Regions from separate parts of the Homo sapiens genome. Here region 1 is linked to region 2. The links come from fine-mapping of genetic effects on gene expression. A gene starts in region 2. The other region holds a variant in brackets. All regions are shown on one strand. Distances are from middle to middle. Region 1 overlaps LOC102723878 (a long non-coding RNA gene). Region 2 holds the start of GPR137 (G protein-coupled receptor 137).

Evidence for each region. PIP is the estimated chance that this variant, and not a neighbour inherited with it, causes the effect.
Region 1: its variant is fine-mapped to the expression of GPR137 in whole blood (TOPMed, PIP 0.99).

What each region holds. Positions count from the first base shown.
Region 1 is chr11:64,323,189-64,332,895 of GRCh38, reverse strand. LOC102723878 (a long non-coding RNA gene) reads left to right here. Exons shown (of 4, transcript NR_188518.1): 3 at 5,360-5,412; 4 at 7,565-7,846. Among named protein-coding and RNA genes, the nearest start is that of PRDX5, 9.9 kb to the right of the region's middle. RefSeq lists enhancers at 1,025-1,074, 1,340-1,862 and a silencer at 7,404-7,556. The variant T/C (reference allele first, on the strand shown) is at 4,879.
Region 2 is chr11:64,280,326-64,291,778 of GRCh38, reverse strand. It overlaps GPR137 (G protein-coupled receptor 137), which reads right to left and starts at 5,931. Exons shown (of 7, transcript NM_001170880.2): 1 at 4,898-5,931; 2 at 4,765-4,814; 3 at 3,833-4,058; 4 at 3,565-3,714; 5 at 3,311-3,439; 6 at 3,058-3,176; 7 at 2,285-2,742. The coding sequence starts at 5,254. The coding sequence ends at 2,583. BAD (BCL2 associated agonist of cell death) reads left to right here and starts at 7,114. Exons shown (of 4, transcript NM_032989.3): 1 at 7,114-7,148; 2 at 7,403-7,597. The coding sequence starts at 7,411. KCNK4 (potassium two pore domain channel subfamily K member 4) reads right to left here and starts at 477. Exons shown (of 7, transcript NM_033310.3): 1 at 213-477. It overlaps KCNK4-CATSPERZ (KCNK4-CATSPERZ readthrough (NMD candidate)), which reads right to left and starts at 57. Exons shown (of 11, transcript NR_133662.1): 1 at 1-57. RefSeq lists silencers at 5,855-6,594, 6,945-7,234.

The DNA of each region.
Region 1 (9,707 bases), 42 kb before region 2:
AGGCGTGCGCCACTACACCTGGCTAATTTTTGTATTTTTAGTAGAGACGGGGGTTTCACCACGTTGCAGGCTGGTCTGGAACCCCTGACCTCTCAGGTGATCCACCCGCTTCAGCCTCCCAAAGTGCTGGGATTACAGGTGTGAGCCACCACTCCCGGCCTGGGTTCGAATTTTTTAGCTAGCTCTGGTTCAGTCTCAAAGGCCAGAAGCAGGAGGGCTCTGGGGTTTGGGCGGAAGGGGAAGCCAAGGAGGCCAGGGCAGGTGGGGGCCCAGATCCAGCAAGAGCCCTGAGCCAACCAGAGCCAGGTCAGAGTGAGGCTTTCTCCCTGCTGCAGGCAGCCCCGGAGCTCCGCCTGGCACCCCAGCGGCCTGGCTGGGGCCCAGCTCTCTAAGCAGATAATTCAGGGCCCCAGTCTCAAAAAACAAAAAACAGCCTCCAAAGCCTTCTGGGCAGCTGACCCTCTGTTGCTAGATCTTCGGGGTCCCCCTCCTTCCCACCCAAGTGTCTGAGAAGGGGTCGTCTCCCCACCCACCACTTGAGGGTGAAATAGTGGAGGTGGAGTTAGCAGTAATGCCCAGGGGAGTGGTCCCAAAGAGCTACCCAGGTGGCAGGAGGCAGTGGGAAGCCAGAGCCAGGAAGGGTGGGGCCCAGGGCCATTTGCCCAGTGCCCGTCCAGGTGCCCCGTGACTCAGAGTGCAGCCTGCGCGGCCTGGGGTCCCGCTACTGTAGAGTGAGGCCCGGCCCAGCCCCCACTACCTGACACCAGGCCGGCTCTCCCTTCCTGTTCTCCCCGGGCACTCCCATGCTCCAGGGGGGCACTTGCTGTGCCTCACCCTGTGCCTCCAAGCCATGCTGGGGTGCAGGCACGAATCCTCCTCCAGGGGGCATCCACCCAGCACTGAAGGAGTCATTCAGAAACTGCCTGGCTCACGGCCATGCCGGGCTTAAAGCTCTCCAGTGGCTTCTCCCTGAGTTGACTCAGCAGCTCACCATGACCTTCAAGGCCGTGGAGAGGTGCCGCCTCACCACCCTGACCTCATCCTTCCTCCTCTCCTCCACTCTGGCCACGCTGGTTCCTCAATCGCTCTCCCCCACTCGGCACCTTTGCATCGCCGACCACTCAACTTGGAGCTCAACATGTCTGAGTCACACACTCCCCAACTCCCTACACACACACATTCACACATGCTCACACGCATGCACATTCACACATGCTTACACACATTCACACATGCTCACACACATTCACACACACACACGCACACACACACACACCCTTTCCCCTTATCCCATACTGGTCTCTCAAATGTCCCTTTCTCAGAAAAGTCCTTTCATGACCTGGCATGGTAGCTCACACCTGTAATCCCAGCACTTTGTGAGGCTGAGGCAAGAGGATTGCTTGAGCCCAGGGGTTCAAGACCAACTTGGACAACATGGTGAGACCTCATCTCTACAAAAAAATCCAAAAATTAGCCTCACATGATGGAGCACACCTGTCATCCCAGCAACAAGGGAGGCTGAGGCAGAAGGATCACTTGAGCCCAGGAGTTCAAGGCTACAGTGAGCTGTGATCACACCACTGCACTCCAGCCTGGGTGACAAAGTGAGACCCTGTCTCAAAAAACAAAAGAAAAGAAAAGTCCTTTCTCTTGTAAAGCAGCCCCCATCCTCCTCCCACAGCAGGGTTCCACTCCATGCACCCGGCACCTTCGCGTGCTTGCTTTGCCTGCTCCCCTGTCAAGTGGAAGCCATCATGGGCTCACCCATGACTGCAGTGCAGAGAGCGCAGTGCTGAGCCCACTGGGTCCATGAGAGCACCGATGTCCGCTGCCCACTGATCTCTGCTGGGCTCCATTCTAAGCACTTCCCACATCTCAATCACTTAATCCCCTCCTCAGCTGCAAAATACAGGAGCTGGCCGGGCGCGATGGCTCACACCTGTAATCCCACCACTTTGGGAGACCGAGGTGGGCAGATCACAAGGTCAGGAGATCAAGACCACGGTGAAATCCCGTCTCTACTAAAAATACAAAAAAAAAAAAAAATTAGCCGGGCACGGTGGCGGGCACCTGTAGTCCCAGCTACTCGGGAGGCTGAGGCAGGAGAACGGCGTGAACCCGGGAGATGGAGCTTGCAGTGAGCCGAGATTGCGCCACTGCACTCCAGCCTGGGCGACAGAGAGACTCCATCTAAAAAAAAAAAAAAAAAAATGCAGGATCTATTGGTTATCCCCACTTTACAATGAAAAAAATTGATGCCCAGAGAGGTTAAGTCACTTGCTTAAGGCCACACAGCCAGGAAGTGGCAGAGCCAAGATACTGAAGGCAGTTTTTTTTTTTTTTTATGTTTTTGAACAAATGAACTCTTATTTCAGAGGCCAGGAAAGTGCAGCTCAGAAGGGAATGGGGGCAAGTAGGGCAGCTGAGGCTGAAATCTCAGTCCTCCTCTGGCGCTAAGAGCTCGCAGTCTCCCAGCCCCACTCTACCCACAACCCCACCCCACCCTCCACCCCCTGCTCCCCGCCACCTCCTCCACTCCATTCCTTTGTATTTTGTTTTGTTTTGTTTTGTTTTGTTTTGTGTTTTTGGAGACAGAGTCTTGCTCTTACCCAGGCTGGAGTGCAGTGGCTCGATCTCAGCTCACTGCAACCTCTGCCTCCTGGGTTCAAGCAATTCTCCTGCCTCAGCCTCCCACATAGCTGGGATTACAGGCAAGCGCCACTACGACCGGCTAATTTTGTATTTTTAGTAGAGACAGGGTTTCTCCATGTTGGTCAGGCTGGTCTCGAACTCCCGACCTCAGGTGATCCACCCGCCTCGGCCTCCCAAAGTGCTGGGATTACAGGCGCGAGCCACTGCACCCGGCTCCACTCCACTCCTTGTTGCTGTCGGGTGGGACAGCAAGGCTGGAGCCCAGCATCCAATTAGGAAACAAGGTGGAAATCCAGGGCCAAGCCCCATGGCTGCCAGTTGCCCTCGTAATTAAAGACACACACATTAAAGACAGCTCCGAGGTGCCATTAAACATCCATTAAACTGGCAAAAAATAAATCCAAAAGGTAAAACTCAACTCTAGTTGGCAACTGCAGCAGAGAACACAGCACAGGTCACAGGTGGCTCAGAGGCAACAGCCCTCACACCTGGCTCCCTGTCCCTGCCCTGAATTGTTCCATGTGGGAACTGGGCCACACTGGTCAGCTTCATCAAAGATAGATTTGCCAAATTGGCATACAATTCACATGTCATAAAATTCACTCTCTAAAAGCGTACAAGTCAGCACGGTCTCAGAATTTCCTGAGACCAATAAAACCTCCGGAGCCCTTTGACCCAGCACTCCAGCGTTTGGGAATAAGCCCTGTAGAAGGAGCCCAAGAGGAAACAAAAATAGAAGTGTGTCCAAAGCTGGAAGCTGCCCCAGCCAAACACTGGAAACACCCAGCTCTCCACCAAGATAAACCACGCGAGCCACAGCTTGCGGGCAATATCCCATCTCCATCCTCACCACTGCTCAGCCCAGACCTCCCTCATCTTCCTGGCCTGCAGACCTTAGCAGTGGCTGTTCCCACCCCTGGAACACCCTTCCCACCTGGTACCTGATGCCTGCAGGGCCCATGCACGGCATATTCACTGCTGTATCCCCAGAGCCTCGCACAGTGCCTGGTGCAGAGATGATTTTCAGCAAAGAGGCACTGAAGGGAAGATACCTATGTGACTGTGAGGAGACACAGGTGAGCAAGTGGAACCTCTGAACACCTGATTGGGCCACTCATAATGACATGAGAATTGCAATGCTCAGAGGAGAAAAGCAGCTTCTTTTGGTGAGAAGTCACTGAGATTAAAGATCTGTCTTAGGGTCGGGCATAGTGTCTCATGCTTGTAATCCCAGCACTTTGGGAGGCCAAGGCAGGAGGATCACTTGAGCAGAGGAGTTTGAGACCAGACCAGGCAACACAGAGAGACTTTGTCTCTACCAAAAAAAATCAAAAATTATCTGAGCATGGTGGTTCATGCCTGTAGTCCCAGTTACTAGGGAGACTGAGGCAGGAAGATCACTTGAACCCAGGAGGTAGAGGCTGGTGGTGAGCCGAGATCGTGCCACTGCACTCCAGCCTGGGTGACAGAAGGAGACCCTGTCTCAAAAAAAAAAAAAAAAAAAAAAGGCCGGGAGGCCTTTGGGAGGCCAAGGCGGGCGGATCACGAGGTCAGGAGATCGAGACCATCCTGGCTAACACGGTGAAACCCCGTCTCTACTAAAAATACAAAAAATTAGCCGGGCATGGTGGCGGGCGCCTGTAGTCCCAGCTACTCAGGAGGCTGAGGCAGGAGAATGGCATGAACCCGGGACGCGGAGCTTGCAGTGAGCCGAGATTGTGCCAGAGCAAGACTCCATCTCAAAAAAAAAAAAAAAAAAGATCCGCCTGTGCCTTAGTGGTGATGGTTGCACAACTCGGTGAATATATTGAAAACAACCGACTTGTACACTTTAAAAAAAAAAAAGAGACAAGGTCTCATTATATTGCCCAGACTGGTCTCAAACTCCTGGACTCAAGTAAGCATCCCCCTTCACCCCCACAAAGTGCTGGGATTACAGGCATGAGCCACCATGTCTAGCCTTTGTACAATTTTACAGGCTGAATTTTATGATATGTGAATTGTATGTCAATTTGGCAAATCTATCTTTGATGAAGCCGAACCATGTGGCTCAGTTCCCGCAGAAACTAATTCAGGAAAGGGACAGGGAACCAGGAAAGAGGGCTGTTGTCCTCAGCAGTGAAACTGACTTGGGGCCCTGAAGGTTAGAGTGATCTGGGCAGGGGCATCCCAGCGGGGAACATTGTCTGGTAGATGCTGAAAGGGAAGAGATTGGAGGACCCACAA[T/C]TGGGAATCAGGGTGACTTTGGTGACCAAGGTTGCAGGGAATGGGGACAGAGGCTTGGAGAGAAGTCACTGGGGAGATGAGGGGACCACACGTGGATCTGGGCCAGCTTCGTATTAACCATGCCCTTCCATGGCTGACAGGAAAGGCAGGGAAGTGGGCATCTCCTGGGAAGCATGGAACCTCAAAGGTCCCTCTTCTCAGAGGTGATCCCTGTGTGGCCACACTGCTTGCTGTCCACCCAATATCCTTTCTCTCTCTCTCCCTGACTAAAAAAACTCATAATTTTTAATTTAGACACATGGCACCCTGGAATGAAGTTGATACTTCTCAGCTTCCTTTGCAGCTAGTATGACCATGTGACTAAGTTCTGTCCAGTGAGATGTAAGTGGAAGGGATATATGACAGCTTCCAGAAAAAGCTTCTTGACAGACAGCTGGCATGGGCCTTTTATCTTCTGTTCTTCATTTCCTCCTTCCTGCAGGCTGGACGATGAATGTGATGGCTGGAACTCAAGCAGCCACAGTGGATCATAAGGTAAAGACGTGTTTAAAATGGCAGAGCAGCAAGACAGAAGGAATAATCACACAGCTAGCATACTAGCTCAACCTCTCTAGTGCATACCTGTGAGCTAAGCCTTTGTTTTTTTGTTGTTGTTGTGTTGTTTTGTTTTGAGATGGAGTTTTGCTCTTGTTGCCCAGACAATGGCACAATCTCGGCTCACTGCAATCTCCACCTCCCAGGTTCAAGCGATTCTCCTGCCTCAGCCTCCTGAGTAGCTGGGATTACAAGCATGCACCACCACGCCCTGCTAATTTTGTATTTTTAGTAGAGACGGGGTTTCTCCATGTTGGTCAGGCTGGGCTCGAACTCCGGACCTCAGGTGATCCGCTCACCTCTGCCTCCCAAAGTGCTGGGATTACAGGCGTGAGCTACCACGCCTGGCCTTCACTTCTTTACTCCTTCCCAAAACGTGTTAAGTATTATCTGTGTTTCCCACCCTGAGCAGGGCTCCTTACCTGTGTTAAGTAAAAAGACATGATTCCCAACTCCAGGAGTGCGAGTTGATGATACAAATATAATCACATGGCAGGCCAATATGCATGCTCGTTAACACCAAGAATCTGTGCCTTCGCATAGATGTTACCTGAACTTCTCCAGAAGTTATACCCATGCACACTTTGCACTATCTGCTGTCACTTCTCAATGCCTGTGTCACCAAACCCCAACCACGCCCAGTAGAGTGTGTCCCTTTGGGGCCAGCAGCCTCCACTGCCCCTGATCACAGCACCTTCATGGCTGCAGCCCAAGCCTGATCTAGGCCAGGAACACCAGGACCCCTCCAACCTTTTCTTTGTCTCAGAAACCCAGACTTGACTCCCTTAGGGCCTATTGAAAACTCCCCCGATAGGCCAGGCGCGGTGGCTCACACGTATAATCCCAGCACTTTGTGAGGCTGAGGCGGGCAGATCACGAGGCCAGGAGTTCAAGACCAGCCTGGCCAACATAATGAAACCCCATCTCTACTAAAAAATACAAAAAGTAGCCGGGCATGGTGGCACGCGCCTGTAGTCCCAGTTACTCAGGAGGCTGAGGCACAAGAATCGCTTGAACCCGGGAAGCGGAGGTTGTGGTGAGACTCATTCTGTTGCCCAGGTTGGAGTGCAATGGCGTGATCTCGACTCACTGCAACCTCTGCCTCCCAGGTTCAAGTAATTCTCCTGTCTCAGCCTCCCAAGTAGCTGGGACTACAGGCATGGCACCACCATGCCTGGCTAATTTTGTATTTTTAGTAGAGATGGGGTTTCACCATGTTGGCCAGGCTGGTCTCAAACTCCTGACCTCAGGTGATCCGCCCACCTCAGCCTCCCAAAGTGCTAGGATTACAGGCGTGAGCCACCATGCCTGGCCTGATTTTTATCTTTCAAATAACCTTTTATTGAGCCTTTTTTTTTTTTTTTTTTTTTTGAGGCAGGGTCTTGCTCTATTACCCAGGCTGGAGTGCAGTGGCATAATCATAACTCACTGCAGTCTTGGCCTCCTGGGCTCAAGTGATTTTCCCAACTCAGCCTCTGGAGTAGCTCGAACTATAGGCACGTGCTACCACACCCACCCAATTATTTTATTTTTTTGGTAGAGACGGGGTGTCACTAATTTATTTTTATTTAGTTGTTTTTGTTTTGGGTTTTTTTTTTTTTGAGACAGAGTTTGGCTCTTGTTGCCCAGGCTGGAGTGCAGTGGTGAGATCTTGGCTCACCAAAACCTCCGCCTCCCAGGTTCAAGTGATTCTTCTGCCTCAGCCGCCCGAGTAGCTGGGATTACAGGCATGAGCCACCACACCTGGCTAATTTTGTATTTTTAGTAGAGACGGGGTTTCTCCATGTTGGTTAGGCTGGTCTCGAACTCCCGACCTCAGGTGATCCGCCCACCTCAGCCTCCCAAAGTGCTGGGATTATAGGTGTGAGCCACCACACCCGGCCTATTTTTATTTTTTTAGAGACAAGGTCTCGCTCTGTCACCCAGGCTGGAGGGTAGTGGCACGATTATAGCTCACTAACTGTAGTTAGTCACCAACTCCTGGTGTCAAGCGATCCTCCCGCCTCAGCCTCCTGAGTAGCTACGACCACAGGCATGCACTACGACAACTTATTTATATATTTACTTATTTATTTATTTATTTATTTTGTAGGGACGGTGTCTTGCTATGTTGTCCAAGCTGGTCTCAAACTGGCCTGAATCAATGCTTCCACCTCAGCTGCCAGAGGAACCGGGATTACAGGCCTGAGCCACTGCAGCCAGCCAGTTTGTTATTTTAATGTAAATTCTTAGTAAACAACTCAGGAGCTCTCTTGTCCTTTTAAAATCCATTTCAACTTCTGCTAATCGGAGTGTATATTCAGGGCAACTTGAATCTGTGCTCCTGGGATGCAATCCTCAAGCTTGGCCCAAATAAAGTCTCCGCTGATATTAATTTTGCCTAGGCTTCTTCCTTTTAGGTCAACACTCTTCAGGCTCATGTTGGGGTCTGTTCAGCTGCGTTTCAAAGGGACTCTAGACCCAGGAAGGCCCAGAACCACTGATGCTGAGTAACACCCTTGGCCTTCTGGTCTCAGTTGCTATGGCCTTGGGCATGCTAGGACAGGCAAGTGAGTTTCACTGGGGCATGTGTTGTTGGGTGGATGTTTCAGCTTCTTTTCTTTTTTTTTTTTTTTTTTTTTTTTTTGAGACAGACTCCTGCTCTGTCTCCCAGGCTGGCATGCAGTGGCACGATCTCGGCTCACTGCAACCTCCACCTCCCAGGTTCAAGCAATTCTCCTGCCTCAGCCTCCCTCCCCAGTAGCCGGGATTACAGACATGCGCCACCATGCCCAAGTAATTTTTGTATTTTTAGTAGATATGGGATTTCTCCATGTTGGCCAGGCTAGTCTCAAACTCCTGACCTAAAATGATCCACCCGCCTTGGCCTCCCACGGTGCTGGGATTACAGGTGTAAGCCACCCCGCCTGGCCTGTTATGTTTTTTAACATTGGTCTTTCGGCCACCAAGAGCCCAGGAAGGCCACACGCACAGCTCTGCCAGGTGCAGCCCAGATGTCCAGGGCTCTCTGGTCCAGGACACCGTGGCCTGGTCTGCCCTTATCTCCAGGCCTGAAGCCCCACCTGTCCAACCTGGAGACAGCTATGCAAGGTTCTCTTGCCAGGTGCTGTTTAATCTTGGGCCCTCCAGGGCCTGGAGCAGCTTCCAGGGCCAGTCCTCCGTGCCCCCACCCAAGGACGTCCTCACTCCAGCAAGCTCAGCCACATGCTCAGCAGTCAGGGCCACTGAGGCCACAGCCCCACCGCCACCCACACCAGGCTGTCCTAGAGGGCCACCCCAGCCCTGGAAGCCCTCTCAACCCTTCCTAGAGGCCCAGCCAGTGGCAACAGACCTTGGAGGGGACACTTCCTCTAGAGGCCTTGCTTGGCCTCAGCCAGCCCAGATAATAGCCCAGGAGCAGAGGAAACAGGCAGCAGAGTGACAGAGACGGAGCTGGGCTTCCCCGATAGCAGGGAGCTGCCTGGGTAGCGTGGGGTGCACAGCCAGTGGGGTGGGCTATTTGCTACCACCACCCCCTATTTACTAATGGAGACACTCATTAGCTCACAGGTGCCCTGTAGGAAGCTCCACGTCTGTTTTCTCATTTGTATGATGAGAGGATAAAGAGGTGGTATCCGGGAAAGAAAGGGGCTTTGTGTTATGCGTGTCCATGAGGACAACACTGTACCCCCGAGTTTGGCAGGAGAGGAGAGGCAGGCAGTTTACCAGGGCAGCTCGAGGTGCAGTCAGCCTCCTTCCCTGCCCCCACCTGGGACCCCTGAAGGGGTGGCAGGTTGTGGGAGAGAACCACAGTGACAGAGGTTGGTGGGCAGCACGACTCGGGTAGGCTGAGCACCTGCAACCCTGGGCAGGGAGGCTGGCTCCCCTCCTACTGAGTGTCTGTTCTCACAGACGTGACCACAAGCACCCAGCCCCTCCACCTTCAGCAAGCAGCTCCCTGGATGCACCCTCCCTCCCAACACATCTCCACCTCCACCTCCTGGGCATTGCTGTCATCATGGGTCCTGCTCCCTGCTGCCCATCTGGTGCCTCTCCCAGCCTCCCAGCTTGGGGGCTGCACACGGTAGCCCATGGCCAAGGTGCCTGTAGGGTGGAAGGCAAGCTGCTCATCAGCTTCAGAGAGCCCACTGACCTCCAGGCATCCTCTCTTGTCCCCAACATTCCCCCCCTACTCCTGCTACCCACCTTGCTGCGGCAGCATGGGATTGTCCCACCCTCCACCCCTAGGGCTATGG
Region 2 (11,453 bases):
CCCGCTGCGGCTGCGGCTGAGGCCCGGGTTCCAGCACGGCCTCGCCGGTGCCGACTGGGCCGCGGAGGCGGCAGGGGCGGAGCGGGCGGCCGCCGGGGCTGGGACCCCCCTCCCGCCGGCAGAAGCCCCCCTCCTCCCGCGGTTAACCCCTCCGGCGCCGCGCTTCCCTCCGTGCAGCGCCCTCGCCGCCGGCGCCGCCCCAAGCCGTTTACCTGCGGCCGCCTGGCTCCCCACAGCCGGCCAGCCCCGGGAGGTGGGTGGCAGAGGAGCCGGAGAGGGGTTGCAGCAGGGGCCAGCCTTCTAGCCTTGGACCGGAGCCCAGTGTGGCCAGCGGCAGGGCCCCGACCTGGGCATCAGCTGGCCCGTCTCTCCGGACAGGCACCACGCTAATCTGGCATCTCCCAGGCCCATTACCGGATCGGGAAGGGTCCGCAACTCTCCGCCCCTGGGGACAGCCTGGCCCTTGGGCTCAGCACTCATGAGGGAGGGGCTCCGCGGGACAAAGGGGTGGGGGAAACCCGGTGGGGCCACCTGGAATTGGCCGACGTGGAGGTTGGGACCCACCTCTGGGGGAGTTGCTGCTGGAGCACCTCCTGCCCCCACTCCAGGTTTTGGCCCTCTACCTGCTCCCCGGCTATCCCTCCAGGGTGCTCCCTGCCCCAGCTTTTGGTTCTCACTTCCATGCCCAGAAATCAGCCCCGGAAGGCTGTGGCTGAAGCTGCCTGCAGATCCCAGCATGGCACTGGTGCCAGCATCCACTCTCCCACTGCCTGAACACCCAGGCCCTGGCTGGTCCTGAACTTGCCCCGCCCTGTTCTCACCCACTTGACAACCTGTGACCTCTCCAAAGACCCTCTGGTGCCTGCTGGGGTCCTCAGCCCTCATGCTGGATGGCTTTCAGCCTGGGCTTTGAGGCTGACCACCCGCTACTGGTAGGGAACCTGAACAGGTTACCAAACTCTGGAGTCTCCCTGTTCCCACTTACAGAAAAGGGATGATTAATCATCACTTCGGGGTGCTGTTCTGGGCATTAAGGAGGCCAGTGTTTAGAAATCCTCAAAACAGAGCCTGGCACACACAATAAAGTGCCCCACAAACGTTAGCAGTTTTTATTTCAACAAAAAGTGATTGTCCAGCTTCAAGCTGATTCTCTATGAGTCTCAGATGCCCTCTCTGGAGGCCCTGAGGGCCTGGTGCCCAGGATGGTCCCAAGTAAAGGGTTTTGAAGCAGGCCCAGTGATAAGCCAAGGGAACTCTGAAAAGCTGGGACAACCACCTATGTGGGCAGGGGACAGACCCTCCAGCAAAGGACTCCTAGCCATCAGACAGACCTGCCAGGGCCATGGAAGCAGAGGGCAGTGACTATGCTACTAAGGACAGTGGAGAAGAGGGCTAACGGGAGGGCATAGCTAGGGGACCACCTGTACATCTGGGCAAACCCACGCCCTGGTAGGAAGATGGGGGCTGCTCAGTCACTGCGCCAACTCCCCAGCAAGCCCTGGACTAACTCCTGACTCCTAAAGACCAGGTTGGGGTGGTGATAGGGAAACAGGGCCTCCAGAAAGTCTAATCCATTGGGGTTAAGACTCAGAAGCTGCCAGGCATGGTACCTCATGCCTGTAATCCCAGCACTTTGGGAAGCTGAGGTGGGTGGATTGCTTGAGCCCGGGGGTTCGACACCAGCCTGGGCAACATGGTGAAACCCCACCTCTAAAATTAAAAATTAAAAAATTAGTCAGGAATGGTGGCATGTGCCTGTATTCCCAGCTACTCGGGAGGCTGAGGCAGGAGGATTGCTTGAGCCTGGTAGGTTGAGGCTGCAGTGGGCCATGATCGTGCCACTGCACTCCAGTCTGAGTGACAGAGTGAGACCCTGCTTCAAAAAACAAAACAAAACAAAGAACCTCAATGGCCACATAATCAGTAATGTGGAGCTGTGGGGCCCAGCAGAGGGGCCATGTCCCTTGACCAGGAGACAGAAGGCTTCCTAAAGGAGGTAACAGTTGACGCAGGTCTTGAGGAAAGAGTAGCAACTGTTCAAGTGGAGAGGGATCTGGAGGTAGTGGGGCAATTCTGGGCCAGGAGAGCTTTGAGAACAAAGGCCTGTGTGGTCTCCTTCCCTTGCAAACTGCAGGCCCCTCCTCTCCCAGCCCACCAGCCTTGATGGGGTAAGTCACCCCTGCCCAGCCTAGCAGCCCACTTCAAGGGCTAGTGTCTGTTCAGCCTTAGGCCAAACAGGCAAAAGTGATAGGAACACAAGGCAGATGACAGACAGGTGCACAACTGTGGGGCGCAGACACTGTTTATTGAGTGGCAGGCACAGGAGAGGTAGCTGGCTCCGGTGTGGAAGCAGAGGTGGCAGGTCATGCCAGGGTGCTGTGGGCATCTGGCAGCCAGGGCCATGCCCCCCATCCTAGGGGGACGGCACAAGCTCACTATGACAGGAGCAGCAAGGAGCCGGCCAGAGGAGGGGGTAGCCACGACCCCCAGGATCCTGGGCAAGAAGCGGCAGACAAACTTGGCACAGGGGCCTAGGGTGAGGGGGACTGGGGCCTGGGTATTCTGTGGGGGAGGGAGGGGGATCACGTCTGTGGGGTGGAGTAGAGACTGTGGTGGTGGCCGCCTGGTCCTGGCACCTGGGAGAAGAGCAGAGGAGTGGTCTTCGTCTGGCTGCCCCCATACCAGCCCGGCTCACGCCCGATGGCACCATACCAGCTCCCAGAGCCTAGACTGCCCGACATACTGCAGCAGAGAAACAGGGTCAGTCTCAGGACAGTGACCAGGGCCACAGTCACAAGAGCTGCAGGAGGAAGACAGGCTTAGAACAGAACCCCTGTGACCTAGACCTTCGGGGCCCAGGACAAAGTACATCTCTAGGCAAGAGGTGGAGGCTTTAGCAATAGGAACCCAGGGGACCTCACCTAGTACAGATGGGGAAGCAAAGGCCATGGCAGGGGTGGAAGGCAAGACCCGGCTATCTCGGTCCCCCATAGCTTGATGGAGCCAGCGGGGTGGGCGGGTAGGGCAGGGGTACTGAGGCAGTGCCACGGCTCCTACCTGGTGCTCTCACCCCGGCTGTGCTCCCAGGAGCAGCCCTCATCTTCACAGTGCCCAGCCCGGTCAAAGAAGTAGGACCGAGAGGCAAAGACCTGCCCATTGAGGATGTGGCTGGTGCTCTGGGGGAGGAAGCCATCATCGATACTTACTCCTGTCCTGCACTGGCCTCCCAGGCCCAACCCCAGACTCCAACCCAGGATTTGCAACATCCGCCCCCTCCACTGGCCCCACAGAAGAGGGAGCAGACCCTTACCAGGTCCTGTGGGGGCCGGTGCACCCGGAAGAAGCCCACCAGCAGGGTGGTGGGCAGTAGCTCCCACACGAAGAGGATGAGGCCAAATACCAGGTAGCCTTTGTTCCCCAGGTCATTCACCAGGTCCGCCTGTGGGAAGGCAGGGGCTGGTGCCAGTCTGCAGTCACGCCAAAGGGGTAGTGGGACAGGGCCCAGGCCAGCTGGGGCCAAGGTGCCACGGCTACTAAGGAGGTGGCAGACATGCGTATGCCCACCTGGTCAGACACATTGTACCAGTCGTAATCGAAGGTGTCCAGCCGGCTCTGGGGGGCCAAGGCCAGTGCTGTCAGGTTGTAGCAGGCCCGGCTGGCATAGAGCAGGACCATGGCGCCACCCATCGCGGCCGCCTGGCACACACTGGTCCCCTGGCACAGGTAACAACAGAGGACCCTCAGGGAGAGAAGGCTCCCAGCTTCCTCTACACCCTGAGAACCGCTGCCGAGAGACCCAAAAGACACCTGGGCATCAGTGCTGCAGCCCTACCTTGGCCTCCAGGTAGATGCTAGTGGAGGGCGCCCGCCTGGCGACGAGGCAGAGGCAGGCAGCAAGAGACAGCGCGCAGATGACGAACAGGGAGTCGCTCACCAGGACGCGGACAAGCAGCAGGGCCCAGGGCTGTGCCCGGCGCCGATGGGAGAGCACAGCACACAGCACGTTCACCAGCAGAAAGAGCAGCGAGGCCCCCACAAAGGCCCCTCGGACAGCGAGCCTGCAGCCACAGCACAGTCAGCGCGGGCCCTCAACAGCCCTCAGCACTCACCACCTGCCCCACCTCCTGCAGGAAACCCCAATGTCGACAAAACTCAGGGCATCCAGTCTGAGCCCTGTTCCTCCACTCTTACAGATGGAGAAACTGAGGCCCAAAAAGGTCAGAAGGTGACTGACAGCCATGGTACTTCGGAAGGTGCACCAACTGGAGTCAGAAGTCTCTGTCTGAGCCCCAGCTCTGCGACCTTGATCCTGCTGTCTTACCTGGCTGGGCCTCAGTTTCTTCATCTCTCAAGGGAGGATAGTAGCCTCTCAGGGAAATTGTACAAATAAAAGATGGCTGGGAAAGCTCTTTATAAACCGTAAGACACTGTACAAATGACGAGGGCATTGCGGCCCCAGGTCACCCAGGAGTGCATATGGCTTTGGTGCTTCCATGGGCTGGAGCCTCCAGCTCGCCCTCCATGGTGGATGACACTGGGGCCCTCTCCCTCACACTACCACAAGCATTCCTATTCCTGTGCCTTGCAGATCTGCAAGGCCTCTGCTGAGCCATCTGCGCCAGGTGCTTTAACTTTTCCAAGATCTTCCACAGACATTCCCTGGGTTGCCTTTGTCTCAGCCCTGAGAGGTGGGAAGGGATCTACATGGGACTGTCACCTGCCCCTGACCTGGAGGCTGAGCCCACCAGTGTCCCGAGTACTTACAAGCCTCGGCTCATCTCCGGCCGACGCTTCACCTTGGCCTTGAACACCACCTAGGAGCAGAGATGCCCTTCACTCCTGTGGGTCCTTGAGGCTTGCCACCTCCCGCCCCCCACCCGGGACCACAGTTGGTTACCTGGGCAAAGTAGAGGTTCATAAGCGTCAAGGTGAAGAACTGCAGGCAGACGGGGCAGCAGTAGAGAAGCCAGAAGGGCAAGGGCCCCAGGCGGTTGGCGCGGGGAGTATCTCGGAAGTAGAAGGAGAAGAGGGTGGTACGCAAGGCGGCCCAGAGCAGACAGAGGGCCAGGAACACCGTCTGATAGCTGAGACGCTTGTGCCCATACAGAAGCACCAGCCAGAGCTGGGCATAGACGGAGAAGAAGAGCAGGGCATACAGGGTGGTGTAGGCAGCTGTCAGCCCCAGGGTCACAGCAGGTGGCAGCGCAGGCACCAGCCCGGCAGCAGGCACCAGGCCAGACAGGTTACTCTCCATGTCAGGGAGGGAGGCCTGAATCCCGGAGACAGACAAGGAGGGACTGTCGGCGGGACCAGGGAAATAAATACGGAGGGGTGGGAATTGCAGGGTGCAGAGAGGGAGATGGGGCGCTCAGGAGGAAAGAAGTTGTGGCTGACAGGCCCCTCCTCCTCAACAGAGAGACCCTTGCCCTTGGGGAACACAGGCAGCCTGGGCCCCAGGCCCCTCACTCAGGGGCATGGAAGGGCAGTCTCTTTTCTCCAGGACAGACCGGATAGGGGTTGGGGGTGTCTCCTCCCTGGGCCTACCCCAGAGCCAAGGATGGGGGGATGCAGAGGCCCAAGGAGAGGACTCCCTGGCCTCGGTCGTTCATGTCGTCCTGGGTGGAGGGGGAGAGCCGGCTGATACCCGTCGGGTCAGGGCAGCGGCCGCTGCGAGGGGCGCCCAATGCCCCGCTCTCCCCCTCCCCAAGCTGGGGGAGGCTCTCTCTCCTCCAATAATGCGGATGGGGAGGGCCTCTGCCTCCTGTCCTCGTAATTCTCGAAAGCTGCCCCCGCCCCACCCTCCCCCACCGCGTCCACGCTCCAGCCTCAAGGGGAGGGAGGAGGCGGACGCCAGGTCCTCAGGCCGCTGATGGGAGAGCCGGCTCAGGTCGTGGGGACCCGGGGCTCCGGCTCCCCGGCTCCCGCTGCTCCGCCCCCCTCCCCCTCCGCGCCTGCGCGGGCGCCGTTCGCTACGCAAATTGCGCAGCGGCCCGGCTGGCTCCGCAGTCCAGCGCCGCACCCGGCGTGAAACCGTACGAGAATTGGCGCGAGCTGCGCCGCTGGCGGGCGCCCGGGGTTACGGGAGGCGGCAGGAGGGCGGCCGAGTTGCGGGGGCCGTGCCGCATCCAGGGGGTCCCCGGGTGGGCCGTGCCCCGTGCCGCCCGCCTTTACTTGTATGGGGGTCCGCCAGTTCCCACGCTCCTCTCTCCTATACCCAAATCGGGGTCGTGCCGCCCGGCCGGGGGCGGCAACGGATTCCCGTCCCTCGGTCTCTGAAGAAAACTTCCGCCCATAGCCAAGATGGCCCCCGGGCCCCGCCCCCGGGCCTGAACCCGCGGAGCCCCGAATCCCCCGCGCGGGCCCGCCCCTCGCCCCGGCGCGCCCGCGGCCCTGCTCACCTGGCCGGCCGCCTGCCAGGCGTGAAGCCCCCACGGGCCCTACGGTCCTCCCTCACCGGGTCCCCGGCCCTCCTCCCGCGCCCGGGCAGCCATCCCAGCCAGGGAGGAGGTTCCTTTCCTTATCTCCAGTGCCCCCGAGATGGCGCGGGAGGTGTCCCCCGAGGCGGGCGGCGCGAAGCTTCCGCGCCTGGGAGGAGGAGCGGGGAGCGGGACTTTCCGACCGGGCACCCAGTCCAGGCGGAGCGGTAACAATAGCAACAATAATCACATCCGACGGCTGAGCTTCAGTTGTGGCTGTGCCAAGCGCCTTCGCCCGCAGTAATCACTCCCTTCACAAAGTTTTCACTGGCTCCCGGGGGAGCTGTCACTATCCCCACTTCACTGGGGGGAAACTAAGGCCCAGAGGGGCTGAAGGACTTGTTGGCAGAAGTGGGTCTCCAGGTTCCAAATGGGGACCCCAGAGAATCCCTCTCCTGCTCCCACACACGCCCAAGGTGTGAGGCAGCGAGGATGTGAGCCCCGGGGCCGAAGGAGGGAGGAAAAAGGATGCGGACGAGGAGCCTTGGATCCGGCGGGGGGGCGGGGCCGGGCCGGGTTGACCCCGCCTCTGGACCTACCCGAGTGACGTTCCGAGAGGTGATTGGGCCAGGTCGCTGACAGTTCCCGTTGCCCAAGCAACTAGGGCCCGGAGCCCGGGGTGCTGGAGGGAGGCGGCAGGCCCGGGTCAGGGGCCTCGAGATCGGGCTTGGGGTGAGACCTGTGCGCCGTCACCACGGGCGGGGCGGGGCCTGGGTCCACCGGGGTTCTGAGGGGAGACTGAGGTCCTGAGCCGACAGCCTCAGCTCCCTGCCAGGCCAGACCCGGCAGACAGATGAGGGCCCAGGAGGCCTGGCGGGCCTGGGGGCGCTACGGTGGGAGAGGAAGCCAGGGGTACCTGCCTCTGCCTTCCAGGGCCACCGTTGGCCCCAGCTGTGCCTTGACTACGTAACATCTTGTCCTCACAGCCCAGAGCATGTTCCAGATCCCAGAGTTTGAGCCGAGTGAGCAGGAAGACTCCAGCTCTGCAGAGAGGGGCCTGGGCCCCAGCCCCGCAGGGGACGGGCCCTCAGGCTCCGGCAAGCATCATCGCCAGGCCCCAGGCCTCCTGTGGGACGCCAGTCACCAGCAGGAGCAGCCAACCAGCAGCAGCCATCATGGAGGTAAGTACCCCACCACCTCCACCTGCCGGGACACCTCACCCCCAGCCCACTGGCTCCCTGCATCCCAGTTGCATCCACAGGCACTGAATGCTTTGGGTCGGTCCCCAAACTCTCAGAGCCCCAGTTTCCTCTTTCGTAAAACAGCAATTAATAACCACCATTGTAGGACTGTTGAGTTAATTAGCAGGAACATATAGGATGCACTTGATTACAGAGCTGGTGCACATTAAAGCTAAAAAATGGTTGCTGCCGGGCGTGGTGGCTCACACCTGTAATCTCAGCACTTTGGGAGGCCAAGGCAGGAGGATCGCTTGAGCCCAGAAGTTCAAGGCCAGCCTGAGTGACTTAGGGAGACTCCAGCTCTTAAAATACATATATATATATATAGCAGCTATTAGTGTGGGGTTAGGACAGAAATCAGTGACAGGCAGGCAGTGATCCGAAAAGGAAAAGGGGCCTGCCTAAGGCCACACCTTCCTGGTGTTTCTTTCCTTAGAATGTGGGGGCTGGAAGCCTCCTTGGTGCCCTGCCCCAGGCTACATGCTTTCCCTGGGATTAGGCCTTCCAGCTCCCAGATGTGTTCTTTCTTGCCCTGTGGCTCGTACCCACAGCAGGACTGTCCTGGCACAGTGGCCAGGGGCAGATGACCTCAAGGGGCAGACAGTCCTCCCAGACAGCAGGGCTGTGTGGGGTGAGAAGCACAGGCTCCAAGATGGAAGGATGGACACTGGGGTTCTATGTCCATTTCTCAGTAGGCTCTAGCACCCCTGTGCCCAGCACTGGCCTTGGCACCTGGAACAACAACAGATATCTTCTGAACACAAAAACCAGGTCAAGCTGGGTGGGGTGGCACATGTCTGTAGTCCCAGCAACTCAGGAGGCTGGCTTGAGCCCAGGAATTCAAGACCAGCCTGGGCAACATAGCCAGACCCCATCTCTAAAAATAGAAAACTAGGTCATGTCACTCTGGCACTGCAGCTTAAAAGACCTCCTCCCCATTTTCAGGATTAAGAAGGCTTAAGAGGCCTCTTTCCCCTCGCTCTCTTACGGATAAACACCCACACTCGATTCTCTCAGATTGGACCCCATAGCTTGCTTTCTTTTTTTCTGTTTGTTTTGTTTTGTTTTGAGACAGGGTCTCGCTCTATCACCCAGGAGGGAGTACAGAGGTGCGATCTCAGCTCACTGCAGCCCGGAACTTCTGGGCTTAAGTGATCCTCCCACGTAACTGGGAATACAGGTGTGTGGACCACACCCAGTTAATTTATTTTTTACTTTTTCTTTTTTTTTTTTTTTTTTTCCTGAGACGGAGTCTCACTCTGCTGCCCAGGCTGGGGTGCAGTGGTGCAATCTCGGCTCACTGCAACCTCTGCCTCCTGGGTTCAAGCAGTTCTCCTGCCTCAGCCTCCAGAGTAGCTGGGACTACAGGCGCGTGTCACCATGCCGGGCTAATTTCTTGTATTTTTATTAGAGATGGGGTTTCACCGTGTTAGCCAGGGTGGTCTCCATTTCCTGACCTCGTAATCCACCCGCCTCAGCCTCCCAACAGTGTTGGGATTACAGGCGTGAGCCACCATGCCCAGCATTTTTCACATTTTCATGAGATGAGGGCAGGGGCGGGGTCTCCTTTTGTTGCCCAGGCAGGCCTCAAACTCCTGGGCTCAAACGATCCTCCTGCCTCAGCCTCCAGAACAGCTGGGACCACAGGTGCATGCCACCACACCAGCTCATTTTTTATTTTTTGTAGAGGTGGGGTCTTGCTTTGTTGCCCAGTCTTGTCTCGAATTCCTGGGCCCAAGCAATCCTCTCACCTTGGCCTCCCAGACTGTTGAGATTACTGGCGTGAGCCACCATGCTCAGCCTCCACAGCTTTCTTTAACTTCCTGAGCTTGCACTTGGCCATTTTTCTGCTCACAAACTTCCCCTGCTCTCTGCCCCCCACACACACTCAGCATTCACTCGCGCCACACAGTGAGTGCTCACCGTGTGACACAGGCTGTTCCAGTTGCTAGGGGGCCTCGGTGAACCCAAGCGTCAGGAATCCTTGCCCTTGTGGAGCTTACCTTCTAGTGAGCTGGTGGGGCCATGAGCAAACAAGCACAAAAGCATCCTATCATGCGTGAGAAGATTTGTATGGGGGCAGCATGTAAAAGAGTTAAGAGAGGCCGGGCGCGGTGGCTCACGCCTGTAATTCCAACACTTTGGGAGGCCTAGGTGGGCGTATCACAAGGTGAAGAGATGGAGACCATCCTGGCCAACATGGTGAAACCCCATCTCTACCAAAAATACAAAAATTAGCTGGGCATGGTGGCGCGCACCTATAGTCCCAGCTACTCGGGAGGCTGAGGCAGGAGAATCGCTTGAACCCGGGAGGCGGAGGTTGCAGTGAGCCAAGATCGTGCCACTGCACTCCAGCCTGGCGACAGAGTGAGACTCATCTCAAAAAAAAGAGTTAAGAGAATCCGGAGTCACAGGGGCGGGGGGAGTGATGGTAGCAGAGGTGGTCAGCACTCACCTTGGTGAGAAGCACCACTGGAGCCAAGGCCACAGGGATGATGGGAAGAGAGTTCCAGGCAGAGAGAAGGGCAGATGGTAAGGCCTCGAGGGCAACACCTGCTCCTGGCTAGGGTGGGCCTAGGGGAGGGGGTTTAGGAAAGGGTATTTGGAGACCTAAAGTTGAAGGTCATTCTAAGGACTCTGGCATTGCCTTTGAGTAAAAACCTGGAAAGGATTTGAGCAGAGGCAGCATGGTCAGATTTAGACATTCAGAGAGTCACCAGGGAGGTGGTGAGAAGTAGCTGATCCCTGGATTTATTTTTAAAGCAGAACTGGCAGGATCTGCTGATGGACTGGATGTGGGGTGCGAGGGAAAGAGAGGAGTCAGGATGATGCCAAGGAATTTTAAAAAAACTATTAGGCTGGGCGCGGTGGCTCACGCCTATAATCCCAGCACTTTGGTAGTTCGAGGTGGGCAGATCATGAGGTCAGGAGATAGAGACCATTCTGGCTAACACGGTGAACCCCGTCTCCACTAAAAATACAAAAAATTCTCTGGGCGTGGTGGTGGGCGCCTGTAGTCCCAGCTACTCTGGAGGCTGAGGCAGGAGAATGGCGTGAGCCCGGGAGGCGGAGCTTGCAGTGAGCAGAGATTGCACCACTGCACTCCAGCCTGGGTGACAGAGCAAGATTCCGTCTCAAAAAAAAAATTATTATTGGCCGGGCGTGGTGGCTCACACCTGTAATCCCAGCACATCGGGAGGCTGAGGCAGGCAGATCACTTGAGGTCAGGAGTTCAAGAACAGCCTGGCCAACTTGGTGAAATCCTGTCTCTACTACAAATACACAAATTAGCTGGATGTGGTGGTGGGCGCCTGTAATCCCAGCTACCTGAGAGGCTGAGGCAGGAGAATCACTTGAACCCAGGAGGTGGAGGTCGCAGTGAGCTGAAATCCTGCCACTGCACTCCAGCCTGGGTGACAGAGCAAGAGTCCGTCTCAAAAAACAAAAAATAAATAAAAATAAAATAAATTAGGCCAGGCGCGGTGGCTCACGCCTGTAATCCCAGCACTTTGGGAGGCCGAGGCGGGCGGATCACGAGGTCAGGAGATCAAGACCATCCTGGCTAACACGGTGAAACCCCGTCTCTACTAAAAATACAAAAAATTAGCCGGGCGTGGTGGTGGGTGCCTATAGTCCCAGCTACTCGGGAGGCTGAGGCAGGAGAATGGCATGAACCCGGGAGGCAGAGCTTGCAGTGAGCCGAGATGGTGCCACTGCACTCCAGCCTGGGCGACAGAGCAAGACTCCGTCTCAAAAAAAAAAATTATTATTATTATTATTATTATTATTTTATTTT